Linked DNA regions of Homo sapiens. The protein of the gene in region 2 interacts with the protein of the main gene of each other region in a biochemical or structural test. Each region holds a gene or a part of one and is shown on either strand. Other genes may lie near its edges. The genes, in order: DLG1, EFNB2 and LIMK2.

Region 1 (3,654 bases), on a different chromosome or scaffold from region 2:
ATCCATTGATGGACAGTTGGGTTGCTTCCTCCTCCTGGCTGTTGTGAATAATGCTGTTAGGAATGTGAGTGTGCAAATATTTCTTCAAGACCCTGCTTTCAGTTCTTTTGGATATTTACCCAGAAATAGGATTGTGGGATCATACGGCAGTTACATTTTTAATTTTTTGAGGGCCCACCATAATGTTTTCCATAGTGATTGCAGCATTTTACAGTCTCACCAGCAGCACACAGGATTTCCAGTTTCTCCACATCCTTGCCGATACTTAATTTTTTTCCTTTCTTTTTTTGATAATAGCCATCCTAATAAGTGTGAGTATATGACTCCTCTTCAAGTGTATGTAAAACATAATAACCAACATTTATTGAGCACTTTCTATGTGCTAATACAAATATATCATTTAGTCATTGTAATCCTGTGAGGTGTACATTCACCTGTATGAGGTGTTTGTACTGTTTTATAGACTGGAAAACTGAAGCACTGAGAAATGACCAATCTTGCCCTTGGACCCTCAGATGCTAAATTGCGGAGCCAGAAATTGAACTCAACTAATCTGAATCCATAGATACTTCTCACCGTCAACCATTGGGATATTCTTTATCGTTGTTTTTCAGAACTGAGTATTTTAATCTGATAAAGAATACTAAATGACAAGCATGCTTAAGACAGATAGCAATCTTTAGGGTTAGTAATCTTTAAATGATTGTCACTTTGAAGGAAAATATTTATAATGGTGCATTATGTTTATGATGATGGAAATCACACATTTTGAAAACAGTGTTTAGTAATCAGGGTTTGAGATCTTCCAGCTATAGTGGTAAAATGTCAAAATTTCTTAAATTTCTTTTGCATTATATTAGTCCCACTGATGTTACATTTTAGTCTCTTGCTAACTGTGTGTGTGTGTGTGTGTGTGTGTGTGTGTGTGTGTGTGTAACTTTGTAGGCTAGATTTGAGTAAGGAAAACAGGATATGGATCACATCGTTGGCTGAAACTTCCTGAAATGGAGAATTTTAGTAACTTCTCACTTGATGGTTTTGATTCAATTAGATTGAGTTCTTTGCTCATAGTTTGCTTACTACTGCTCTGAAGCAGTGTTTTGATTATGTTGAATCTGGCTGAATTCTCTTTAGAACCTTGGAATCAGAGTTGTAAAGGCATCTAAATATTTCTTCTAAGCCATTTCCTCTCTGCAGGGTCATATTTTTCCTCAGTGCAGAATCCAGACTTGGACCAGATATTACCGTTAGTTGTCACGTCTCTTTACTTAGGGCACATTTCCACAGCTTTTCTTTGTCTTGTGTGAGACTGACTTTTTTTTTTTTTTTTTTTTTTTTACTATTTGGAGACAGGGTCTTGCTCTGCCACCCAGGCTGGAGTGCAGTGGTGGCTTACTGCAACCTCTGCTTCCCAGGCTCAAGCAATCCTCCTGCCTCAGGCTCCTGAGTAGCTGGGACTACAGGTGTGAGCCCCCACGCCTGGCTAACTTTTTCTAGAGACAGGTGTTGCCCAGGCTGGTCTCGAACTCCTGAGCAAAGTTCTGGGATTACAGGTGTGAGCCACTGCGCCCAGCTGAGATTGATGATTTTGAAAAACGCAGTTCCTTCCACTCTTACTTTTTTTTAATATAATTTTCTCATTTTGGGTTTGTCTGATGTTTCCTTGTGATTAGATTCAGGTTTTGTATTCCTGGCTTAGGATTCTGTACATCCAGAGGTACACAGAGTCATCTGCTCTTTGTTGATGATACTGATTTTGATTACCTAGTTGGGTGTTGTCTGAATTCTGTATCCTATAGTCATTGTTTTTTACCCCTTGTGGCTTATAGGCAATATGTGGGGGAGACACTTTAACACCATGTACATATCCTACTCCTTAGCAAAATTTCCACCCATATTTAGCATCCATTGATGATTCTTGAACCGGTTTATAATATGGTTGTTGAAAAGTAAGATTTCTAACAGTAACACTCCTAGGTTTACCAGTTAACACTTTGCATTTTATTCTAAACAAGAGCCTTCCTTCTTTTTTTCCCGTGTCTTTCATGAACTTGCAGATACCTGTTTTTTTTTCAATGACTTATCATTTATTACCATCCTTAATGACATTTGTGCTCTGAGTGATCCAGTGGGGGCCCTTTCAAGCTTGTGTCCTTATGAGATGCCCTCATCATTTTTTGGAGCACTTTCTTAATTTTTGGCATAACAAGATGTTCCAGGTTTATCTTGTACCTCTCCTGCCCCAGCCCTGGAATCAGCCATTTCTCTGAGAAGCTCTGGTTCCTTTTAGTACACACCTTGTTTTATGGAATATGCTTGTGAGTCATGTATGATTCTTAGTCTAATAGTATCTAAAGTATTCAAGTGATTTATTTTTGCCTACTAGCTTGACATCTTTCCTTTCTTTAGTGTGTGAAACAATAGTACAAACTTTTAAATTTTATAGGATATTCTTTCTTCTAGGGGTCAAAAATGACTTTTTAAATGAACATTGGTTTAGAAGAAAGAGTATTTGTGCTTGAGTAGATTTGACTATTGTGGTATTATCTTAGTATGTCATCTGCCCTTCACTGATGATGTTAATTTTGATTACTCAATTGGGTATTGTCTGAATAATCATACTTGCTTTTAGTAAATGAACTGATAGAATTTTTTTCCTCTGAAATGGTAGGGTTATATTTCAGTGTTCTTCAGCTTTCTAGTTGCCTTTCCTGTAACCCTCCAAAATAAATTTATTATAAAAATGATGCATGTTCTATATAAAACATTTGAGATCAGATTATTATATGTAAAATACCATAAGAAAATATTCACACCAGAGGTTACCTCCTACTTCATCCATGGGATGAATATCCTGGAATGTTATTTGTGTGTGTGTGTGTGTGTGTGTGTGTATGCGCGTGTATACACGCCACCCCCCACCTTCATTTTGCAAAACAAACTTCTAAGTAAAACAGTTATTTCCCTTGTGAGAATTGATACTTAAAATCAGCATGTAAGGTGAAAAACCTCATCTAGTTAAAATTATCCCTGAAAAGCCTTCAGAAATTTAACACTAGCTCTTGTTAATTACAGCACAATTGTTTTTTTTCCTCTAGTGGAAAGGAATGATTTCTTCACTTGAGCCCTAGACGAAGCAACTGGCTTGTTTGACTTCTTGTACTAAAAACACGTAATTATAGAATCACACTCAGCACAGTGAGATATAGCAAGAAGCTCACATTTTGAGAGGCACATGAAAACTCAGACTACCTAAAGGAAGAATCTTCTTCCTTCTCATTTTTTTATTTGTGACAGTCACTTATTGGGTAGACAGAGTTGCCCTTTTTTGCAGGGGAGATATACTGCAGTTGTATTTGTATAAGTGTGAATAGTATGATTTCTCTGTACTATACATATTGTTTTTATCTTCTAAAGTTTATCGACAAATGTCTTTCCATGTCAGTAGATTTCTACCATTTTATGTATGTATGTATGTATGTATGTATGTATTTTTTTTTTTTTTTTTTTTTTTTTGAGACAGTTTCACTCTTGTTGCCCAGGCTGGAGTGCAATGGCTTGATCTCAGCTCACCACAACCTCCGCCTCCTAGGTTCAAGCGATTCTCCTGCCTCAGCCTCCTGAATAGCTGGGATTACAGGCATGTGCCACCAC
Region 2 (3,654 bases):
CTAATAAACTGAAGTCTATGGTAACCAAGCCACTGGAAAATTCAACCCAATTAATTATGAGTATAATTTTAAACCAAAGAAATTAAGAAAAAAGACTTCATTGCTTGAATGACGCGAACAGCTGTCTGAGTCACCTAGACTTTAACACCACCTGGGGCCCTGGGAATGACGCTGACGAGAGATCTGCACATAGTAGGCGTGGGCTCCAAATGTGCTCATCAGCTGACTTCACATCCTCACAAGTCAGCCTCAGATATGACCCAAGGGATACGTACCATCTCTTCTTGAAACAGCGTGTCAAATTATATATATGTATGCAAAAAAGAGTAATGTACTAAGCAAACCAAGTTTCGTCTTTTTCTTCTGAATCTGGTTTTAATGTGACCTGTCATCCCCATCTTTCGAATTTATGAGCTCCATCTTCTCTAGACTGTTAACTTCTTGAGGAAAACATGCTATTTTACCACCTTTCACTGCTGAATCCCTAGCCCTTAAGCACAGTCTCTGGCACAGAATAAATACGAAATGAATGAGTGAATGAATGGATGGATGGGTGAAGAGAAAAGGCAATGCACAAGATTTACCTATCAAAATCCACCAATGGTCCTTAAAAATGGTTTTGTCAGTAGAGATGCTGAATATATTCATATAATACATTTATTTCAATACTATTAAGAATTCTAGTGTTTTTTTTTCTCTTTGGGTATGTATACTTAATGAATACTGGTAGCACAGGGTCCCAAATTCAATGAAGTTTTCTTTGAAAAAAAAAAAGGGGGGGGGGACAATTTTTCCACATAGATTTTCATCAAATTATTTGTCACAATAATTTTAAGGAAACAAAAAATTGATACAAACCTATATAGCTTATCTTAATTTCTATAAAATAAATGAATAAAATTATACTTACATATAATGTAATAATCTTTGTTCTTCTGAAATTCTAGACCCCAGAGGTTAGGGCTGAATTCTTGAAACTTGATGGTGAATTTGATATCTTGGTCTGGTTTGGCACAGTTGAGGAGAGGGGTATTTTCCTTCTTAATAGTGCATCTGTCTGCTTGGTCTTTATCAACCATATAAACTTTATAATATTCATACTGGCCAACAGTTTTAGAGTCCACTTTGGGGCAAATAATATCCAATTTGTCTCCTATCTGTGGGTATAGTACCAGTCCTTGTCCAGGTAGAAATCTAAAAGCATAAGAAAAAAAAGCCATTGAGTTGATAAAAATTAACAGTATTAATGACAGTTACAAGATAGCCAGGCAATGCCCATAATCCCAAACTACACATTTTCAGATTCACACTTTAATTTATCAAAAGTCTCTTACTTCAGATCAATATGGGATGAATGTATTTTGGAATTAAGCTTTAAAAGAAAAAGGAAAGACAGAAAGAAACCACTTTCCTTACTCTAAGCTGTAGGATCAGGCTACCTGCTGACATTTCTTTACCACCCCCTCGCTTGTAATATTTCAGTACTCCTTTGTGTAACTTTACCATAACTCTTCCTCCGTGGTGAGTCAGATCTCCCACATGTTTGTTATTTTTTAACCATTGGCAGCTTTAGTTTATTGGGCATGCCACAGAGAAAGCTCGTCAATTGGAGGGAACAGTGGATCCACTAATACTTTGTTGTCCTGTTAGTTTCCCTGTGCTGTTGATGTTAATTAACAGACAAGTTTCATCAAGAATGTTTCAAATTACTTATCATAATTAGTCAGTCACTGATCAAACAATGGGTTTTTTATTACACTGAACAAAAGCAATGTCTTACAAATGCGTAAAAGATAACCAGAAATAATTAGTTGTGGTATTGATTCAGCTGCAAAATGAAGTGTCCTCTACTTGCAAGGACAACTACTGTCCCTGCCCTATAAATCTTTTTTTTTCTTCCCTTGAGATGTATTTGCTCCAATTAATTCTCAGAAGCAAATCTTTAGAACTAAGACTACTGATACAATATCCCCTTAATGCTTATAGCTGAAAGCCTCCCTCCTCCCTTTCCTCTTTCTTGGTAGCCATGTTCCTGAATGATCTTTCTTAATGGGGAGTTTCTCTGAAAAACTGAAACAAGAACTTCCTAATGAACATCCTTCTACAAGTGCTAACACTAACAACACACTTAGAAATCTCAGCTCGTTCGTAAGCAGCCAAGCCTGCAGGCTCATTAAAATATTAAAGCCTAAGAACAAAGAATCGCCTCTGAATCCTTCCAATCCAACCCTTTCTTTAACCAGAGACGCCCACCAGCCATGATGACTACAGGGTCATAATTCACTAAGAGATAAAGCAAGGATGATAGGGCACCCCCAATTTCAAACCCATACCAAGGGAATAGTTTATGATTTATGCTAATGAATGGTATTAATTTTCTGAAAAGTGCATGAGTGTGGTTATGAAGCAGCACAAAACATAACAGAAATCATACTATGGATTCATATTAAAAACCCACACTCTTTATTGGGAAGAAAAATGTATGTGGCTGTTACCTCTTTCTTGGGAATGTGTTACTGTACAACCCCCAAAAGAGAAGGATGGTCCCTTTTTTTTTAACTGAGCTCCTTTAGCAAGGATATATGACATTCATTCATTCAAAAAAACTTTCTGTGAAACAGAACTCAAAACGAATTTTTATAACAATGATATATTTAAAACAACCATGTGTGTACTGTTGAAGAATTCTCTAGAACTTTTGACAAATGCAAATCACAGTGGGAGCCTCTCTGTGGTATCCCCTCAACCTTGTGAATGGCAATGTGTTCTCTGTAGACAATTTCATCTTCTTTATGGACAAAACACAATTCAGTTTCTCAAGTAACAGACTGAATCAGAATGTTTGGGATGAGGCTAATTTCTTTATCTCCCCCAGCCCCTCCAACACACACACAGTAATTCTGATGTGCTGCTGAGGTTAAAAACCTCAGGCAAGATGCCGGGCAGTAAGTACAAACTAAATTCCATAAACATTAAATTGATCATCTTCCTGACATTTCCTTTTTCTCCTGTCTTATTCCTTGACCTTTTTAGGACATCTTTAAGGTTTACAAACACCAGGAGTCAATTCCTGCCTAGGGTTTCTCATACACTCCAAACCTTTTCTATCCTTAATCTGCTCCTTTTGTAGCCTGCACAGACAGCACTATATAAGGGTTAGCTACTATTAGGGGAAGTATTCCTAAATTACAAGCCCTGGGGGCATCCCAGGCTTCAGAGATTAGGATCCTTAACCAAACCAGATGTACCCATTTCCTCAACCATTCATTCAGCTCTTTTAAGAAAATGCATTACACCCCCTCCCAAGCTGTACATCTCTGCAAATCTTAAAACTCTCCCACATTACACCCTATGTCTCAAGTTTGGCTCACTAAGCTCCTTCTTCATTCAAAATGCTCCCAAGATCCTGTTTCCTTCATGAGGATTTTTTTTTTCCTGCTTAACTAAAGATTCACAGGAGGTTTCCTCCCAGGCCATGCAAGTCACTCCTCTTGACTCTCATCACTCACCGTCTCAGCGACAGGTCTTGCTGGTGCTGATGCGGTGAGGTCGAGAACATGGGACGCAGGGGTCGGTGTGGCTTTGGGGATCTCTGTGTTTGAGGCCATATTTTCAGAAGGCGTAAGTCATATAAATCATTTAATGAGCCTTTTA
Region 3 (3,654 bases), on a different chromosome or scaffold from region 2:
TTGGGCTACCCAGAGAGGACTGACGCTGGATGGCTCTTGGCTTGTCCCGACCTACAGGTTTACTTACCCTTGTCCTTTTGCTCTGCCTCCTGCTGACCATGCCCACCAGAGCACACAAGGCTAGCTGCCCCCCTCCTCTGCATGGTGGCTCTACAGATACCTGGCCACTCCCAAATCTTCCCTTTTCCAGGCCATGGATTTCTAGCTCTTCCCTGCCCTCTGTTGCCCTGCCTCCCACTAATTTCATCATACTGACCAAGGCCAAGAGGCAATGGGAGTGAGGGCAGCACTTTAATGAGAGGGCACTGTTTCCAACACATGCCAGCTGAGAGGGCTCTAACTTACTCAGTTTGTTTGGTGAGGAGAGTGGATAAAAAAAAACAAACTTTTTTTTTTGGAGACAAGGTCTCACTCTGTTGCCCAAGCTGTAGTACAGTGGTGTGATCAAGGCTCACTGCAGTCTTGAACTCCTGGGCTCAGGCAATCCTCCTCCTCAGCCTCTTGAGTAGCTGGGATTACAGGCATGTGCCACCATGCCCAGTTAAGTTTTTTATTCTTTGTAGAGACAGGAATGTGGCCCAGGCTGCTCCTGAACTCCTGGCCTCAAGCAATCCTCCGGCCTTGGCCTCCCAAAGTGCTGGGATTACAGGTGTGAGCCACAGTGCCCTGCCCATCTAATTAAAAACAATTATTATTATTATTTTTTTTTTGTAGAGACAGTGTCTCACTATGTTGCTCAGGCTGGTCTCAAACTCCTGTGTTCAAGCCATCCTCCGACCTAGGCCTCCCAGAGTGTTGGGATTACAGGCATGAGCCACGGTGCCTGGCCAAGAACCTGATTCTTAGTGATACTAAGAATGTGTCACGTTTACTGAACACTGTCCCTATGGCAGCACTATACAACTTTATGTCCTTTTCCACATTTAATCCTTACATAATTGGTGAGACAGCCACCTTTATCTTACCATCTTATGTCACAGATGCAGAAACAGGCTCAGAGAGATGAAGTGATTTGTGAAGGGAGGAGCTCAGCCTGAAGCCCCAGTAGGGTATCAGTATTTCTGCCTGGGAGCCAGTGCTCTTGACTTCTTTTCTGTAAGTCTCCCTACTTGGGGCTTCCACTCAAGGCAACTTCTCCTTCCCCATGGACCTGGCAGAATCTGGGGTTTGGGGGTTGTTGGTCCCTCAAGTCTAAAAAAAACGTTCATTCATCTTTTGCTTTATTGTTTTCAAAGTCTTTCTACACAATTTATTCAATCCTATCTGTGCCCCTACTCCAGGCTCTGAGCTCCATGCTTTCTCCATAGGCCATGTTGCCCTTCAGGGTTTAGCATCACTGCCTCCTGTCCAGCTTAGGAGTTCAGTGGACAGAGACTGACTCTCAGGTTTCTAAGGAAACCTGGCAGACAGCTGGGTCCGCACAGGCTCTGGCTGTAAACTGTGATCCCCACAGGGGCAGCTGGGTCAGCACAATCCTCATAGTCTGTCCCTGGCCAGCTGGTTCCTTTCCTAACTCTGCAGGCTTCTGAAAGCCAGCTCAGCTTCATCCGAGAGACAGACATAGGACAGAACAGAGCCAGGGTGGGAGGTGGCACCTTAGGGAACGTCTCCTCAGTGTCCCCTCCAGATTCTCCTTGGTGTCCAGGGTGCTGAGGGCGTGGGGGTGTCCGGCATTCTGCATGTGAGGAGCGAGCCGGGCCTCCAGCCGCAGCTGGTCCAGGCGTTGGGAGACGGGGTCATGTTCAATCAACAGCTGAAGTGTCTGGCTCGTCTGGCTAATTGCATCCTCCACCTGTGGCCAAGAGCAGTATAAAGCTCCCACAGGCTGCCCCATCCCAGGCCACCCATGGCCAACCCAGATGACTCAGGCACAGTGTGGCCAGTGCTCAACTTGTCTAATGGTGGCCTTTAGCTGCCAGTGGCCTCACAGTGCCCTCTGCCTGGCATCCTGTCAGCTCTCCCGTCCATCAACCATCCCTGCTACCCTGGGAACCTGTTACGCTGAAATAGGTCACCAGTGGTCACAGGCTCAATGCTAAGACAAAGAGATGGGCTGGGGGTAGGAAAAGGTAAAGGCTACAGCCTGATTTCTCAGAGGATCTGTTCCATGTCCCACCCTCACAAGACAGATTAGACACACACTCTACCTCCTCCACTCGAAGTGTGCGGACGGGGGTCCCATTGATCTCCAGGATGCGGTCCCCAGGGTGGATGGCGTTTCGATTGTTGGGACTGATGTGCATCCGGTTGACCCTGGGCCAGACAAGAGTTGAGGCAGGGTAAAGATGTCCTAAAAACCTGCTTGACCAATTCTGCTTGTGCAGGGAAGGTTTACCAGGTCCCAGGCCACCAGTGGCCCCTAAGGGGCCCAGGATACCCACACAGAAAGGCAACACCTTTTCCAGGATGCCCCATCTCAGTGAAGGGAATTGCCACTCACCCTGTGGCCTAAGCCAGAAACTTGAACATCATCTTCCCAATCTGGAGTTCCCTCATCTCTCCTACTCCCATCTCTAAGAACTCTGCCTTCTTTCCATCATTGTAGTTATTCACATCTCTTACCTGGATCACGGTAATAGCTTCTATTTTTTTTTTAAACTTTGTTTTTAATTTTTATTTGAGATGGCATCTTACTCTGTCATCCAGGCTGGAGTGCAGTGGCATGATCTGGGCTCACTGCAACCTCCACCTCCCAGGCTCAAGCAATTCTCATGCCTCAGCCTCCTGAGTAACTGGGATTACAGGCGCGCACCACCATACCCAGCTAATTTTTTTGTACTTTTTGTAGAGATGGGGTTTTGCCATGTTGGCCAGGCTAATCCCAAACTCTTTTTTTTTTTTGAGATGGAGTCTCGCTCTGTCGCTCAGGCTGGAGTGCAGTGGCGTGATCTCTGCTCACAGCAAGCTCCGCCTCCTAGGTTCATGCCATTCTCCTGCCTCAGCCTCCCGAGTAGCTGGGACTACAGGCGTCCGCCACCATGCCCGGCTAATTTTTGTACTTTTAGTAGAGACGGGGTTTCATTGTGTTAGCCAGGATGGTCTTGATCTCCTGACCTTGTGATCCGCCCACCTCGGCCTCCCAAAGTGCTGGGATTACAGGCGTGAGCCACTGCGCCTGGCCTAATCCCAAACTCTTGACCTCAAGCAATCTGCCCACCTTGGCCTCCCAAAGTGCTGGCATTACAGGCGTGAGCCACTATGTCTACGTCTGGACTTTTCTTTTAATTAAGAAAAACAGAGACGGGGTCTTGCTATGTTGGCCAGGTTGGTCTTCAACTCCTGGCCTCAAGCAATCCTCCCACCTCAGCCTCCCAAAGTGCTGAGATTACAGGCATGAACCACCATGCCCAGCCTACAATAGCTTCCTAACTAGTCTCTATACCTTTAGGCTTTCCCCTCTCCAATCCAACCTCCATACCAGTGATCCTTCTAAAATGTTAACTTGGTCACAACACCTTGCTGCTTAAACTCTCAATGGATCTGCTGGATTTTCATAATCCAGGCCCTCTATACTTAACAGCCCCTTTTCTGGCCACACTCAACCTACATCAGACATGATTAAGACTCCTACTTTTGGAGAAATGCTTCTCCCTCTGCCCTGAACACAATTCCCTCTCCTCTTCATCTAATAAGGTTGTAGAACAGACCTTAGCT

Evidence for each region.
Region 1: the proteins of EFNB2 (region 2) and DLG1 interact in a test that uses a peptide from one of them, tested with the Homo sapiens proteins (one large-scale study listed by IntAct).
Region 3: the proteins of EFNB2 (region 2) and LIMK2 interact in a test that uses a peptide from one of them, tested with the Homo sapiens proteins (one large-scale study listed by IntAct).

The regions. Positions count from the first base shown.
Region 1 is NC_000003.12:197,288,582-197,292,235, reverse strand, and holds part of DLG1 (disks large homolog 1), read left to right. Parts: intron 1-3,654. UniProt on the Homo sapiens protein: Essential multidomain scaffolding protein required for normal development. Recruits channels, receptors and signaling molecules to discrete plasma membrane domains in polarized cells.
Region 2 is NC_000013.11:106,511,619-106,515,272, forward strand, and holds part of EFNB2 (ephrin-B2 isoform 1 precursor), read right to left. Parts: intron 1,195-3,654; coding exon 911-1,194; intron 1-910. UniProt on the Homo sapiens protein: Cell surface transmembrane ligand for Eph receptors, a family of receptor tyrosine kinases which are crucial for migration, repulsion and adhesion during neuronal, vascular and epithelial development.
Region 3 is NC_000022.11:31,260,733-31,264,386, reverse strand, and holds part of LIMK2 (LIM domain kinase 2), read right to left. Parts: intron 2,254-3,654; coding exon 2,148-2,253; intron 1,793-2,147; coding exon 1,596-1,792; intron 1-1,595. UniProt on the Homo sapiens protein: Serine/threonine-protein kinase that plays an essential role in the regulation of actin filament dynamics. Acts downstream of several Rho family GTPase signal transduction pathways.